Homo sapiens: one gene and its partner. The protein of the gene in region 1 interacts with the protein of each later gene in a biochemical or structural test. Each region holds a gene or a part of one and is shown on either strand. Other genes may lie near its edges.

The links. Proteins that work in one complex are often made in the same cells at the same time.
Region 2: the proteins of TCEA1 (region 1) and CTR9 form a complex in vitro, tested with the Homo sapiens proteins (2 studies listed by BioGRID).

The regions. Positions count from the first base shown.
Region 1 is NC_000008.11:53,984,249-53,991,932, forward strand, and holds part of TCEA1 (transcription elongation factor A protein 1), read right to left. Parts: intron 4,012-7,684; coding exon 3,866-4,011; intron 2,778-3,865; coding exon 2,721-2,777; intron 270-2,720; coding exon 115-269; intron 1-114. Other genes in the region: LYPLA1-TCEA1 readthrough, read right to left, coding at 115-269, 2,721-2,777, 3,866-4,011.
Region 2 is NC_000011.10:10,761,047-10,768,730, forward strand, and holds part of CTR9 (RNA polymerase-associated protein CTR9 homolog), read left to right. Parts: intron 1-900; coding exon 901-1,008; intron 1,009-2,384; coding exon 2,385-2,492; intron 2,493-2,596; coding exon 2,597-2,833; intron 2,834-3,065; coding exon 3,066-3,155; intron 3,156-3,261; coding exon 3,262-3,390; intron 3,391-3,501; coding exon 3,502-3,685; intron 3,686-5,355; coding exon 5,356-5,444; intron 5,445-6,759; coding exon 6,760-6,945; intron 6,946-7,027; coding exon 7,028-7,115; intron 7,116-7,296; coding exon 7,297-7,445; intron 7,446-7,684. UniProt on the Homo sapiens protein: Component of the PAF1 complex (PAF1C) which has multiple functions during transcription by RNA polymerase II and is implicated in regulation of development and maintenance of embryonic stem cell pluripotency.

The DNA.
Region 1 (7,684 bases):
TAACGGAAATTTATTACATATGCAATATTTATATAGTAGTCTATGATGATAATAGGCTTTACACTTCACAACACAGAATCACATTATAGAAACCTCAGATTCACACATACTCACCTCTGCTGTCATTCTAGCAAATAAGTCAGGAGGAATATTCCCACAGAGGACATTTTTCCTTAAATTTGGATTTTTTGCATCTTTAAGATTTGATATCCTACTTCGTACTCTATTTTTGTATTTCATGTCTGTATTCCTTATTTCTTGATATATAGGTACCAGGCCGTTAAGGAAAAAAGGCAAAATTACAAAAGTAAGATCACTTTTTTTTCCTGTTCTGCCAAAATAAGAATTCCTGAGGCCAGGCACGGTGGCTCATGCCTGTAATCCCAGCACTTTGGGAGGCTGAGGCTGGTGGATCACGAGGTCAGGAGATCGAGACCATCCCGGCTAACATGATGAAACCCCGTCTCTATTAAAAACACAAAAAATTAACCAGGCATGGTGGCAGGTGCCTGCAGTCCCAGCTACTCGGGAGGCTGAGGCAGGACAACCACTTGACCTGGGAGGCAGAGGTTGCAGCGAGCTGAGATCAGGTCACTACACTCCAGCCTGGGCGACAGAGGGACACTCCATCTTAAAAAAAAAAACAAACCTGAAATTTCTAAGCAATTCACGACAACTGTTTCCAATTTAGAGTATGTTAAAAACAAGGTACTATATCTAATTCCTTGAGCTGTAATTGGCGAATAATAGTGATATTACTTTTACACTGTAAAGTAGTTGTTTGTTTTGAAGGTGGGTAGAAGGAGTCTCACTCTGTCACCCAGGCTGGACCTCAGCTCACTGCAACCTCCACCTCCCGGGTTCAAGCAGTTCTCCTACCTCAGCCTCCCGAGTAGCTGCTGCGATTATAAGCGCCTGCCACCATGCCCGGCTAATTTTTGTATTTTTAGTAGAGACGGGGTTTCACCATGTTGGCCAGGCTGGTCTCAAACTCCTGACCTCAGGTGATCCACCCGTCTCGGCCTCTCAAAGTGCTGGGATTATAGGCGTGAGCCACCGCGCCCGGCCTAGTCATGTTTTATTTCCTAAATGTTTAGTGCCAGCAGTATGCAAGTCAACAGGGTTTCAAAAAGTAACTCAAGTACTCAACATGAGAAAGCACATGTTTGAAAAGGAGCTTGAACTTATTCAAGCTTTACTTGCCCAAATCCGAATTCTACTAAGGATCCTAAAGTCTCTCTGGTCACACAGTTCCCACAGGGTCTCTGAGAAGAGACCATTCAGCATGGCCGTGAGGGTTCCTCTCCTCCCCCAGCTCAGCAGGAGCTACCTCAGCAGGCTCTTCTTCTCTGCAGAAGAGGCCACTGCCAAAGCTGAACCCTGGAACAGCTCCCTTCCTAATAAGGCCATTTCCTCAACCAGGACAATCTCATGTTACACAGCCACCTAGATGCTCCCTGCCCCTACTCACACACAGTACCCCTCTCCTGGAGCCCTTTCCCGGTGCTTAGCAAGAACACGCTTCCTCTGGGATAATGAGCTCAGGTGACTGTGTGTGCTCTGAGGTCCCCCTAACTGAGAAGTCTTCACATTTATATGTGTGTGCTTTCCATGCCCTTTTGCACAACTTAAATTCAGACACTACAGTCTCAATCTACAAGGCAGAAAAATTTAAATGTCATAAATGCCATCAATACTGTACTTTCCTTTTCAATAACAGGAAAAACAAGACAAATAAAATGACATAGATGTCCCTCTCCTTTCCAAGAAAACAATACAATCAAGATAAAAAGTGAAGAATAAGACTTTGAATTCTATACCAACAGGAAAAATTAAGCTAGCAGATTACTTAAAACAATTATGACCACTTGAAGTTGTGTGACACCAAGAGACCTTTCTGGCTGGTAGCAGAAGTAATAGATGTCACTCCTCAGCAGTAGTTTTGAAAGCCAGTATGCAATTTATCCATTTTACCTTCTGCCACATCACCACTCACAATGGCCAATCCACCTGCCTGGTCCTAGAGGACAATGACCCAAAGCCCAGAGTCCTCAGCTAGCCTGTGATGAACATATAGGACAAATACATTCCTGTTTGTCCAGTTTAATCTGTGAAAGAAACCTCTGTGGTGTTAAGCCACTGAAATTTCAAGGTTGTCACCATAATATAACACAGCCTGTCCTGCCAAGTACATAAAGTCAATCTTGGACACTCATGTTTTGCTAGGAAAGCGAAATTCTTTAGGTTTTCAAATTGCCAACGAGATACACCCAATGTTCTCATGTATTTTGTAATCTCTTCTAATTATGTTATCGGTTTGCCTTTCTTGTTCTCAATCATATTTTCACTCTCCTGCTATCTGAAGCAATTTTACTAGGGATTTATATGTTTCAGTTTCCAAAGAGCCAGGTCCTTTTAAACTTCGCTGTTTCTAGTTCATTCAGCTTCAACATGAAGGAAAAAGTCTAGCGTGGTGGTCAAGGTCATGGGCTTGGAGCCAAATTCCCTACAATGGAATCCCAGCCCTGTCAGTGTCAGGCTGTGTGATCTAGAACAATGACCAATCCTCTTCTGCTTCTGTTTTCTCTCTGTAAAATGGGATGAGAGCACCTAATTCATTGGAAGGACTACTGCATGTAAAACCGTGCCTGGCATTTGCATATGTTCAATAAATATTACTTATTAAAAAAAACAATTATGAATATACACACAAAGGATATCTTCTTCAATTTGAGATCCTAATTCTTCCTCATCAGCTCCAATTGCAATGTAGTCATCTAAAAATAGGCATAAAGAATTGTCAAATTATTGTAACAGATTAAAAGAAAATTCTAATACCAGGTAATTAAACTGCATTCCTATTTCTTAAACCCCATTTGCCTGACATAAAGAAACCGTTCAGTTTAGTTCGTTAGAATCTGATCACTTCACTGCCCGCTAGACTTCTTTTCTGGGCTTCACCTGATACCCACAGTGCTCCTGCACTGATGATTCCTGATCCCTCAGGCACAGGAAGTAACTGATCTAGCAGGCAATTCATTTTTCGTAACTCCATAAATTCTGGCTGCTCCAGCAGAGTAGAGAAAGTTACAGAAAGAACTGTCTAGTCTCCTGTGACTCAGGCTTCAATGCAAAGAAATCATTTAGTTAATCTGCCAATCACATATACAGACACACTCAGAAGACTGCTATACAAATATGCAAGAGGATAGAAGGAAATAAACTAGGCAGAAAAAATAAAAGAGACAGTCAGGAAATCAAAGTAGAAAGGGCAGAGTAAGGAGAAAATCAGGTCAAACTAGCCATGGTGCAGAATGAGAGAAAAGAAAAAGGATGAATTCGTATAAAATAACAAATATTCCTGTATATAAAACTTTAAATCCAAATGTTACATGTTAAGACTGGATACTTTCAAATTAAATTAAGCTCCCATATATAAATCAAGACTCACCCTCCCTTTTTCTAACTAGAAAATGGAAAACATTCATACTATATGTCATACTATTCAACAATTCAGTATTGTTAACTCTCAATATAAGATCAGGGTATGTAGTTTGCAGATTAAATTGTGGGGAAACAAAAGATTTGTGAGAAAAAAGTGTACATTACTATGAAATCAGGGAAAACATCCATGTATTAGAGGGAATCTATTTCTTACAATTACATAGTAATAAGCAAATGCCCCAGTATTCCTCCTCCTCTCCCCCTTAACAGACCCGTATCAGCAACAACTTCTCCCCAAGCTAAGCAGCAGTGGGTGGGCTATCCACAGGGTAACACTCATCAAACAGCAATATGGAGTTGGAGATGGCAGTGGTTGTGGGTGGTGACCAAAGGACTGAGAAATAACATGCACTGGACTTACCCCCTGTTCGAAGAGCTGCAGCAAGCATCTCCCTACACTTCAACCGCACAGAATCAGAAGTGCTTGGTGCCCGAGGAAAGGATGAAACATAAGTATCTCGAGCATTTGTCTCATCCTTTCTGTTGCTTACATTGCCGCTGGAAGTACTGAAATACGCACAAACACCCCAAAAAGAAATCAAGAACAATCCTTTCAAAGTAACAATACTACTATCATGCTGTAAAAACAAAATTTGGGGTCTAAATAAATGACACAGTATCTCAGTGACCTTTATGTGATGGAAAAAAAATTGCCTGCATACAGATTAAAAAGAAGTTAAAAATTTTACAATTTAGTAAAGTGACAAGTATGCCTTTTTTTTGAACTAAACATTTTATCTTTGATTCTCATTTTAAATATTAAGCAATATTTTTAATAGAGAAAATACCCATTATAGCTCAGTACAATAAATGAAAAGCAATGATCTTGGTATAAGGAGAGGGATGAAGGGATGGGACCAGAGAATGACAGCTTTCTTTTTTGAGACGGAGTCTTGCTCTGTCACCCAGGCTGGAGGGCAATGGTGCAATCTCGGCTCACTGCAAGCTCCACCTCCCAGGTTCACACCAGAGAATGACAGCTTTCAACCAAAACTAGAGATAGAGAGAGAGAATGCTTGAAAAACTCTGTTTCACTGGGCATGGTGGCTCACAGCTGTAATCCCAGCACTTTGGGAGGCCAAGAGAGGCAGATCACTTGAGGCCAGTAGAGTTCAAATCCAGCCTGGGCAAAATGGTGAAACCCCGTCTCTATTAAAAATACAAAAATTAGCTGGGCGTGGTGGCACACGCCTGTAATCCCAGCTACTTGGGAGGCTGAGGCAGGAAAATCGCTTGAACCCAGAGGCAGAGGTTTCAGTGAGCCAAGACTGCACCACTGCACTCCAGCCTGGGTGACACAGCGAGACTCCACCTCAAAAAAAAAAAAGAACAAAAAGAAAAAGGAAAACCTTGTTCCACTTAGACAGTGAGTTCCCCAGTGAGACAAATACCATGTGTACTGATGAGTCATGAGGCTACAAAATGGTGTGTTTCTCCCCAGAAACATCACCTCGATATGAACATTTAGGCAGTTTTATAATTTTCCAGTCAACCTAATCCTTTCAATTGCTTCTGAGTAGCTTCTTACGTTGGATTATCACTAAAATGGGTTCTTTCCAAAATAATCTTCATGATTACAATTAAGCTTTATCACATTGAAAACAGCTGCCATAACCCTTTTCAAAGACTGATTAAATCATCCACCATCCATAGATGTGGTTTGCTGCAATGCTACAAGAACATACTCCCTTGCCTTCTCTCCAAAACATAACCACTGTTAAACTTCACAAACAGGTGCCTGTGGGTCAGACGGACATTAGTACCTTTTAAATTTAGTCAGTTCCTTTTTGAAGCCTTCACTGATTTCCCCCTGTATTCCCAAAATATTGATTCACACAGGTTTGTATATGATAACTTTTCATACATTTTCTTCTCTATCAGACTGAGTTTCTCAAGAGCAAAAACTAGGATTTACTTTTCTTTGTATTTTCATTATGTAGCATAATGCCTCTCAGTGATAAATGAATGAGCAAACTAATGCTTAAAAACCCATTTATTATTTTTTTTTTTAAGACTCCAGCCTGAGCAACTGAGCAAGACTTTTCACAGTGGTGAAGAGAGCAAGAGTTGTGCAGTGGTGCCATCACAGCTCATGCAGCTTTGAACTCCTGGGCTCAAGCAATCCTCCTGCCTCAGCCTCCTGAGTAACTAGGACTACAGGTGCATGCCACCATGCCCAGTTAATTTTAAAAATATTTTTTGGCCGGGCAAGCTGGCTCATGCCTGTAATCCCAGGAGTTCAAGAACAGCCCGGACAAAATAGTGAGACCCAGGGTCTACAAAAAGAGTTTTAAAAATTTGCCAAACATGGTGGTATGCACCTGTGGTCCTAGCTACTTGGGGGCTGAAGTAGGGGGCTCGCTTGAGACTGAAAGGTTGAGGCTGCAGAAAGCCTTGACTACGCCACTGCACTCCATCCTGGGTAAAAGAGCAAGACTCTGTCTCCAAAAAAAAAAAATAATCCAACAAACAAACCTTTTTTTTTTGGTAGAGAAAGGGTCTATGTTGTCCAGGCTGGTCTCAAACTCCTGACCTCAAGTGATAATTCCGCCTCGGCGTCCTAAAGTGCTTGAGCCACCGTGCCAGGCCCCAAAACTCATTTCTTTTCTTTTTTTTTTTTTTTTTCTTTTGAGACAGTCTTACGCTGTCACCCAGACTGGAGTGCAGTGAAACAACCATGGCTTACTGCAGCCATGACCCCCAAACTCAGACGGTTCTCCTGCCTCAGCCTCCCAAGTAGCTGGGACCACAGGCATGTGCCATCACACCTGTCTAATGCTTTTTATTACTTGTAGAGACAGGGCCTCCCTATGTTGCTCAGGCTAGTCTCAAACTCCTGGGCTCAAGTGATCCCCCTACCTTGACCTCCCAAAAGTGCTGACATTACAGGTGTGAGCCACCACACCCAGCCAAAAACCCAGTTCTTAAACACTTTGATTAAATGCTTTTGCTTCTGTGTCTGTAGCCAAATGCTCCACAGGAACCAAGGGAAATTGCCCATATGGGCTGAGGGAAACTTTTCCTCACTAGTTTCACTACTGCTGGTCCCACTTCCTACATTCTGATCCTTCCTTTCTAAGCATTTAAACACATTACTTTCTTCTTAAATTCTTGCACCCAAAATATAAAATCCTGCTTAGCTACAAGCAACTTAGATTTAACCTTCTATCTTTCTTTACATGACTCCTCAAAATTCATTTCTCAATCCTCCTGTATTTCTGTGTGTGTTGGGGCGGGGATGGGGTGTAGATAGATACCAATCAGTTACTTTATCAGACTTCACATACAGTAATTTTCTTTTGCAGACAGGCTCTATACCTACACGTCAAGCACGTAAAACTGATAAAAGACAACGAGAGGCCAGGCGCAGTGGCTCACGACAGTAATCCCAGTACTTTGAGAGGCCAAGGTGGGTGGATCACTTGAGGTCAGGAGTTCGAGACCAGCCTGGTCAACATGATGAAACCCCATCTTTACTAAAAGTACAAAAATTAGCTGGGTGTGTTGACGTGCACCTCTAATCCCAGCTACTCGGGAGGCTGAGACAGGAGAATCGCTTGAACCTGGGGGACAGAGGTTGCAGTGAGGCAAGATTGTGCCACTGCATTCCAGCCTGGGCAACAGAGCAAGACTCCGTCTCAAAAAAAAAAATAAAAACAAGGCTGGGCGCGGTGGCTCAGGCCTGTAATCCTAGCACTTTGGGAGGCCAAGGCGGGCGGATCACCTGAGGTCAGGAGTTCAAGACCAGCCTGATCAAAATGGAGAAACCCCGTCTCCACTAAAAATACAAAATTAGCCAGGCATGGTGGCACATGCCTGTAATCCCAGCTACTTGGGAGGCTGAGGCAGGAGAATCCCTTGAATCCAGGAGGCAGAGGTTGCGGTGAGCTGAGATTGTGCCATTGGACTCCAGCCTGGGCAACAAGAGTGAAACTCTGTCTCAAAAAATAATAATAATAATAATAAAATAATAAAAACAAAGACAATGAGAGACTGAGGAACTATTCCAGATTTAAGAAAACTAAACGGATATAACGTTAGAAAAAATTACATAAACTTTATTAACAACTGCTGTTTAAGCCTACCTTTGACTTACCTCTTTTAATATAGTTAATATGTTTAATATATATATTTAATATAGTTAATACAAATACAAAAAAATAACAGTGTATGAGACATT
Region 2 (7,684 bases), on another chromosome or scaffold:
CCTGGGTTTCTCAGCCTCAGTACTATTGATGTTTTGGGCTGGATAATTCTTTGTTGTGGGGAACTGTCCCTTCCATTATAGAATGTTTTAACAGCATCCCGGGCCTCTACCCACTAAATGCCGATAGCGTTCCTCCAATTGTGATAACCAAACATGACTTCATCCCCAGTTGAGAACCACTACCTTAGGCCAGAGGAAAAGATTATCTGGACTGGTGTAGATCAATCATGATTCATCCCCCGGGCCTGGGGAAGGGGGGAAGGGAACTTTCCTTCCTAAACTCAAAAGATTTTCACAGGCTACAAAATCTGGATTCTGTTAGCAGGATGTTACCAACCCAAATGGCTGTTGGGTAATCCACCAGTATCAGTCACACGAAGAAAACAGCTCGGATCAATAAAACCAAAGGTGGTAGAGGCCAGGCATGGTGGCTCTCACCTATAATCCCAACACTTTGGGAGATCAAAGTGGGAGGATTGTTTGAGCCCAGGAGGTCAAGGCTGCAGTGAGCTGTGTTCATGCCAGTGTACTCCATCCTGGGCAACACAGTGAGATCCTGTCTGAAAAAAATAAAAATTAATATAAATAAATAAAAACAAAGGTGGCTCTTTGTGGGAGAAGTAGGGGCAGGGACTAATAAAGTAGATGAGATAAGTCTCAAGCAAGAACTGAACAAGAAAATAAAAAGGGGAAAAAAGTGACACACAAAAAAATTAAGGATTAAAAGAGAGATTTAATTACAAATGCAATATAGATATTTAAAATCATAAGAAGCTTCTAATCCGTTTTAGTGTCTGATCTTAGGATTTATAACTTATTTCTTGTGACTAAAGAAAACTTCTTGAAAAGTGCTAATTTAGTATTGTTTTCACTCCACCTTGTTGCAATGTTTTCTTTTAGGCTGATTCCATTAAAAATGGTGTCCAGCTTCTTTCCAGAGCCTATACTATTGATCCTAGCAACCCTATGGTATTGAACCATTTGGCAAATCACTTTTTCTTCAAAAAGGTAGAAGTCATTTATTTTTAAATTCTGATTTTTGTTTTTCTGTACTGCAATTGATATTTTATTTCTTTTTTAAACTTGGAAAGAAATTTGAAAATGTCAGATTTTTTCCCCCCTCCAAATTATAGAGTTTGTTGTATTAGTTACCTGGGGGTACCTACATTTGTTTATTCATTTATTTGCTTAATATTTATTGACCCCTATATACTGTACCCAACACTGTGGTAGTGATGTGAAGATTAGTAAAACATGGTGTCTGTACTCAAGGAGTTCAATTTCATAGAAAGAGCAGCCATGTAAACAAATGTAAGTGTAAAAATAAAGGTATCTACTCATTTATGGTAGAGAAATGAGGAAGTGGTCAGATGGCTTAGGTGAATTTTCACCAAGGCTGCAGAGCTTTTGAACTAGGTTTTTAGGAAGAGGTCACTAGAGAGTTGAAAAGGGAAAGACACACAAATCTATGAAATAGTGTATAATATACTTATGGTAGGCAATGCTTTGGATTCAGATAGTGGAGCATTTTTGTAATACCAGAATTTGGACATGCTATGTAGGGAACAAGGAGTCACTGACATTTTTATTTTGCATGTTAATCATGTTGTATTTTTTAAGTTGCCACTAATTCTGTAGAAGCAGTGGTATTTTAGGTTTCTTAAAATACTAAATCTACTGGGAGTAGTGGCTCATGCCTGTAATCCCAGCATTTTGAGGGGCCTAGGTGGGAGGATTGCTTGAGCCCAGGAGTTCAGGACCAACACTGGCAACATAGTGAGACCTCATCTCTACAGAAATTTTTAAAAATTAGCTGGACATGGTGGCACATACCTGTAGTCTCAGTTACTCAGAAGGCTGAGGTGGGAGGATCACTTGAGCCTGGGAGGTCGAGGCTGCAGTGGTGAGCCATGATGGCGCCACTGCACTCCAGCCCATGCAACAGAGTGAGACCCTGTCTCAAAAAAAAAAAAAAGTGCGCTTTATGTATTTACTTATGTAATCTTCACAATAATTCTATGATGTAGGTAATCTTATTCCCATTTTGTGGGTGGATAAGTTGAGGAAGAGTTAATAGTCTAAAGTCAGTAATTCACTATGAAAGGGGAGTATGTTTCTACAGCCAGAGAGAGTAAAGCACTGTGGTTAATAGTTATGTGACCTTAGACTAACCACAGTGCTTTACTCTTTCTGGCTGTAGAAACATACTCCCCTTTCATAGTGAATTATTGATTAGGTTATAACTGTTATAGCACTGAAAGGCAACTATTTATGAAGAAGATGGAAATGTATCTTACAGGTAAACGAAGTGTTAGTCTAAGATAAAACAGCTATGCAAGCTAGTCTTATGAATTCACTCAGTTGACTTTCTGATCTTTGTTCAGGATTATAGTAAAGTCCAGCATCTGGCCCTCCATGCATTCCATAATACAGAAGTGGAAGCTATGCAAGCAGAGAGCTGCTATCAGCTAGCTAGATCATTCCATGTTCAGGTAATTTTATAACTTCTCTAAATGTCTAATCTTTTTACTTATAGTGTTTTAAGTCTTTCCAATACTTTTGTACATATTGGTCTTTTTTAATTTTCATTCTTTAGGAAGATTATGACCAAGCTTTTCAGTACTATTATCAAGCCACACAGTTTGCCTCATCCTCTTTTGTGCTCCCATTTTTTGGTTTGGGACAAATGTATATTTATCGAGGTGACAAAGAAAATGCATCTCAGTGCTTTGAGAAGGTTTTGAAAGCTTATCCTAATAATTACGAAACTATGAAAATTCTCGGCTCTCTCTATGCTGCCTCAGAAGATCAAGAAAAACGAGATATTGCCAAGGTACATCTTTTTTTTAAAGTCTTAGCTGTTTTCTGTTAGCTGTCCCAAAACTCCCATTTCTCATTTCCTGTTATTGCTAGTAGAAATATGATAGAAACAGTTTTGTTAGCTGAGCTTGTTCCAGTTTAGATAACAAACAATGGATTTATTAAACAGACTTACATAGCCCCCACTTTTTATTTTGACAACCTATAGATGGAATACTTCAGCTTAACAATCTCTTTTATCCCAGGGCCATTTGAAGAAGGTCACAGAACAGTATCCCGATGATGTTGAAGCTTGGATTGAATTGGCACAAATCTTAGAACAGACTGATATACAGGTATTTTAGTAATGTTTTTTAATCTCTCATATGATGTGTTTTTTGTAAGCCTGGTGTAGTGTCTCTCTTCCACTTACACCTTTTTCTGTCAATCATGAAAATACAGGGTGCCCTTTCAGCCTATGGAACAGCAACACGAATCCTTCAGGAGAAAGTGCAGGCCGATGTTCCTCCAGAGATTCTCAATAATGTGGGTGCCCTCCATTTTAGACTTGGAAACCTAGGGGAGGCTAAGGTAGGAAAATAGAAATATTTCCTTCTTTTATACTGAATCAAGTTGCATGCACACCTTTTTAAAAAGTGTATAAACTAAATCTTTTAACAGTGTGATTTTTCTTTCTCATAGAAATATTTTTTGGCGTCATTGGACCGTGCAAAAGCAGAAGCGGAACACGATGAGCATTACTATAACGCCATTTCCGTTACCACGTCATATAATCTCGCCAGGCTATATGAGGCGATGTGTGAATTCCATGAAGCAGAAAAACTGTATAAAAACATCTTACGCGAACATCCTAATTATGTTGACTGTAAGGATTTTAAACTTCTTTATGTAATGAAATCCGTTCATTCCCACAAGAGCAGCAAAAATTTAGCCTGAAAAAAATTTAGAATTGATAGTAAAAATTGTTTAAGGTTCTAATGTCCCCATTTCTCCAGGGCAAATTTGTGGCCTTAAAACAAAGGTGCAGCTTTACTTACATTTGTGCTAGAAATAAGCAACTAAAACCAATTGGACCGTATTTCAATGACTAGGTTATCTTCAGTGGGTCAGCTACCTTTGTTAGGCTTTTAACAACTCCTTGGCATATCTGATAATGCATTTACCTTTGAAACATCCTTCTTTGATTTCATATGAACATTCTTACAATGTTTATAATAGTGAGGAAGAAAAGTGCTTTTCCTTTAAACAATTATTGCTAAAATGTCCTAATTTGAGTTTCGCAACCTATACGTTATAAAATAAGGAAAGTTTTTAATTAAAAAATAATTTAGGCCTGGCATGGTGGCTCATGCCTGGAATCCCAGTACTTTGGGAGGCCACTGCAGCGGGATCGCTTGAGTCCAGGAGTTCAAGACCAACCTAAACAACCCCAGTAGCAAGACCCCATCTTTATATTTTAAATAATAATAATATACATAGTGTACTTAATTTTATTTGTGTGTATGAGGGTTTTTTTGTTTGTTTTTGTACTTTCTTTAAAAAGAACCTAAAGCATGATGTTTTGACTCTAGTAAATCAGGAGGTTTTTTGTTTTTTTGTTTTGTTTTGTTTTTAAGATGGAGTCTTGCTCTGTCACCCAGGCTGGAGTGCAGTGGCACAATCTCGGCTCACTGCAACCTCTGCCTCCCGGGTTGGAGTGATTCTCCTGCCTCAGCCTCCCGAGTAATTGGGATTACAGGGGCCCACGACTACGTCCGACTAATTTTTGTGTTTTTAGTAGAGGTGGGGTTTTGCTACGTTGGTCAGACTGGTCTAGAACTCCTGACTTCAGGTGATCCATCCACCATGGCCTCCCAAAGTGCTGGGATTATAGGCGTGAGCCACCGTGCCCGGCATATCAGGAGCTATTAACTTGGTGCCTATCATGCTGTTATGGATGCAAAAGTGATTTAAAATAAGCAAGATTTCAGTTGAATGCCAGACTGAATTTGAATTGATTTGATAGGCAGTAGTGAACCATTATTGGTTTCCTGAGAGAAGTGACATTTCCTAGAGAAAACAACAACTTACATTTGTGTAGCACTTCACTATTAATTAATGGAAGAACCCCAGTTAGAGCCCAGATCTTCTAAGTAGTAATACCTATTCATCAGACTTTCACTGTTTTGCCGTATTACAAGCAGCTTTTTTTAAAAAAAGGTAACTGACAATGGTGTGCATTGGAGAGAAATTAGAAACAGGCCGGTTCCAAGCTTTTAAAATAACTTAGCTTGAGATAAGGACTTGGACCAGGGAACTAGCATTGGGAGTGGAGTGGCAGAGGTAAGTCTTAGATTTCAAACAGTAAGTCTAGATGGTGACAAAATTATTCTTTAACTTGTTGGATGGATGATTGATATTTTTTCACCTTTGGGACTTTTCTGTTCCTTTTATGGCGGTATTAATGAAAAAAAATTGTTTCAAAAGTATGACTTTAAAATTATGATCCTTTATAGCTAATATTTGGGATATAAAAACTTTTAAATATGTTTTCAGGCTATTTGCGCCTAGGAGCCATGGCTAGAGATAAGGGAAACTTTTATGAGGCTTCAGATTGGTTTAAGGAAGCTCTTCAGATTAATCAGGTTGGTAATATTAACTCTTAGGTTTGAGAAATAATTATTTTCACTTTTCCTTCCCCATAAATCAGTTTTTCCTTTTAATGGCTACATCTTCCTGGTTTTGTCATTTTTTGTTTTGTTTTCATTTACTTGTTAGATACTAAAAATGTACTAGGTTGCATTATTAATCATGTTATAAATAGGGACCATGTTTTTTTATGTAAATCTTTCCTATTGTCTTCCTTTTTCCTTCTTCCCTTCCCCCATCCCATCCTTTCACTCCACTTCAACAAATGTGACCTGACTCCTGTGTTTTTTACTCTCACTAGTTTACTTCACTTTCAGTTTAGTTAGTACCATATGAGAGAACTTTATAGCATAGTATCTTAGGATTTTGTATGGAACCATAGCTATGGTCATCTAAACGTTTTGAGGGCCCACAAAAAGAAATAGATTTCACATCATAGCCTAGTACACACAAATGTATATATAGACAAACAACTGAAATGAAAGTTTCACAAATCATTATTTGCTTTTGCCAATGGGCGATACACTGATATTTTTACTTTATTCCATTCTGTTGCATTTACTATGCAGATAACTAAAGACTAACTAAATGGATTTTACAACTTACTAATGGGTATCAACTCAGTTTGAAAACCACTCATGTGGGGGTCTACAACAAGAAGTGTATATTTTCAAACAATTTTTTAATGATTTAACAATTTTTGTAAATCATTTTCAGGCTTCTGCAGCTGTAGATTCTCACTGTGAATCCCATGCTTGCTCATGCCTAAGGGTATTTGCAATACCAAATATAGTTTAGTATTTTTGCCTGTTAGTGATGGTTCCACGTTTGTAACGTTTTGGTTGAGATTTTAAATGGTGGACAAGTACTGTGGATGTGAATGTGGGGAACTAATTTTAATCATATGTAATTGGTCACAAGGCCTAATTTGCAGTAACTATTGCTGTTTTATTTAACAGTGCCTTGTTGCTTTGTATGCATTTATGTCTGGATGTAAAGATTGTGTGTCTATCCAACAGGGAGCCACAGTATTTAAATTGACCAACCTAATGTTACAACTACTTTGAGGTGGCCAAATGTAAACTGAAAGCATTAATTAAAGTGGTGCAATTTTGTATAACTTAGCTTTAGCATTAGTAGTTCGATAAATTTGGATTGCCATGCAAAAAAAAAAAGAAAGAAAGAAAAGAAAGAAAACCACTGTTGTAATATAGTTTGTAAACCTCTTCAGTAATCAGCTATTGTGGGAAGATGATTGATCTCTGTCAAACTAAACTGCAGATTTTCCTTCTTCATGTATGTATGTTTCAGGATCATCCAGATGCTTGGTCTTTGATTGGCAATCTTCATTTGGCAAAACAAGAATGGGGTCCTGGGCAGAAGAAGTTTGAGAGGATATTAAAACAGCCATCCACACAGAGTGATACCTATTCTATGCTAGCCCTTGGCAACGTGTGGCTCCAAACTTTACATCAGCCCACCCGAGATCGAGAAAAGGTAATCTCTTTTTGTCCTTTTAAACAAAACTGATACTCTACATTCTCGTTTGAATCTTTTTTAAGAGCACTTGTTTCTATAGGAAAAGCGTCATCAAGATCGTGCTCTGGCCATCTACAAACAAGTACTCAGAAATGATGCAAAGAATCTGTATGCTGCCAATGGCATAGGTGATTATAAGACTTGAGTACCCATAACAATTTGTTTCAAATGAATACTTTCAGAGGAATGTTTGTAAATCAGAATTTTTCTTAAAATGTGATCAATGTAGTTGTTTTAAAATAGAATTTTTAGTTGTTTTTCTGACTCCAATTAGAAAATTGTTAAGTGTGAACCTTTTTATATCTTTAGGAGCTGTTTTGGCCCACAAAGGATATTTTCGTGAAGCTCGTGATGTATTTGCCCAAGTAAGAGAAGCAACAGCAGATATTAGTGATGTGTGGCTGAACTTAGCACACATCTATGTGGAGCAAAAGCAGTACATCAGCGCCGTTCAGATGGTAATAGCTTCTCTTTCAAGATATTTTTATATCTTGTTCATTGTTAAGCAGATGTTTTCTTAGCCATTCTGGCCCTGTCATGGAGCTGCATGCTATCTCTTGTGATACTGTGTCTATTTAGAGATTTATAATTATATAATGCTAAGGCCAGGCTTTGGTATCCAGACAGAGATGTGAGTCCTGGTTCCACCACTAATTACATGCCTCAGGCAAAGGACATCCTTTCTGAGCCAGTTTTC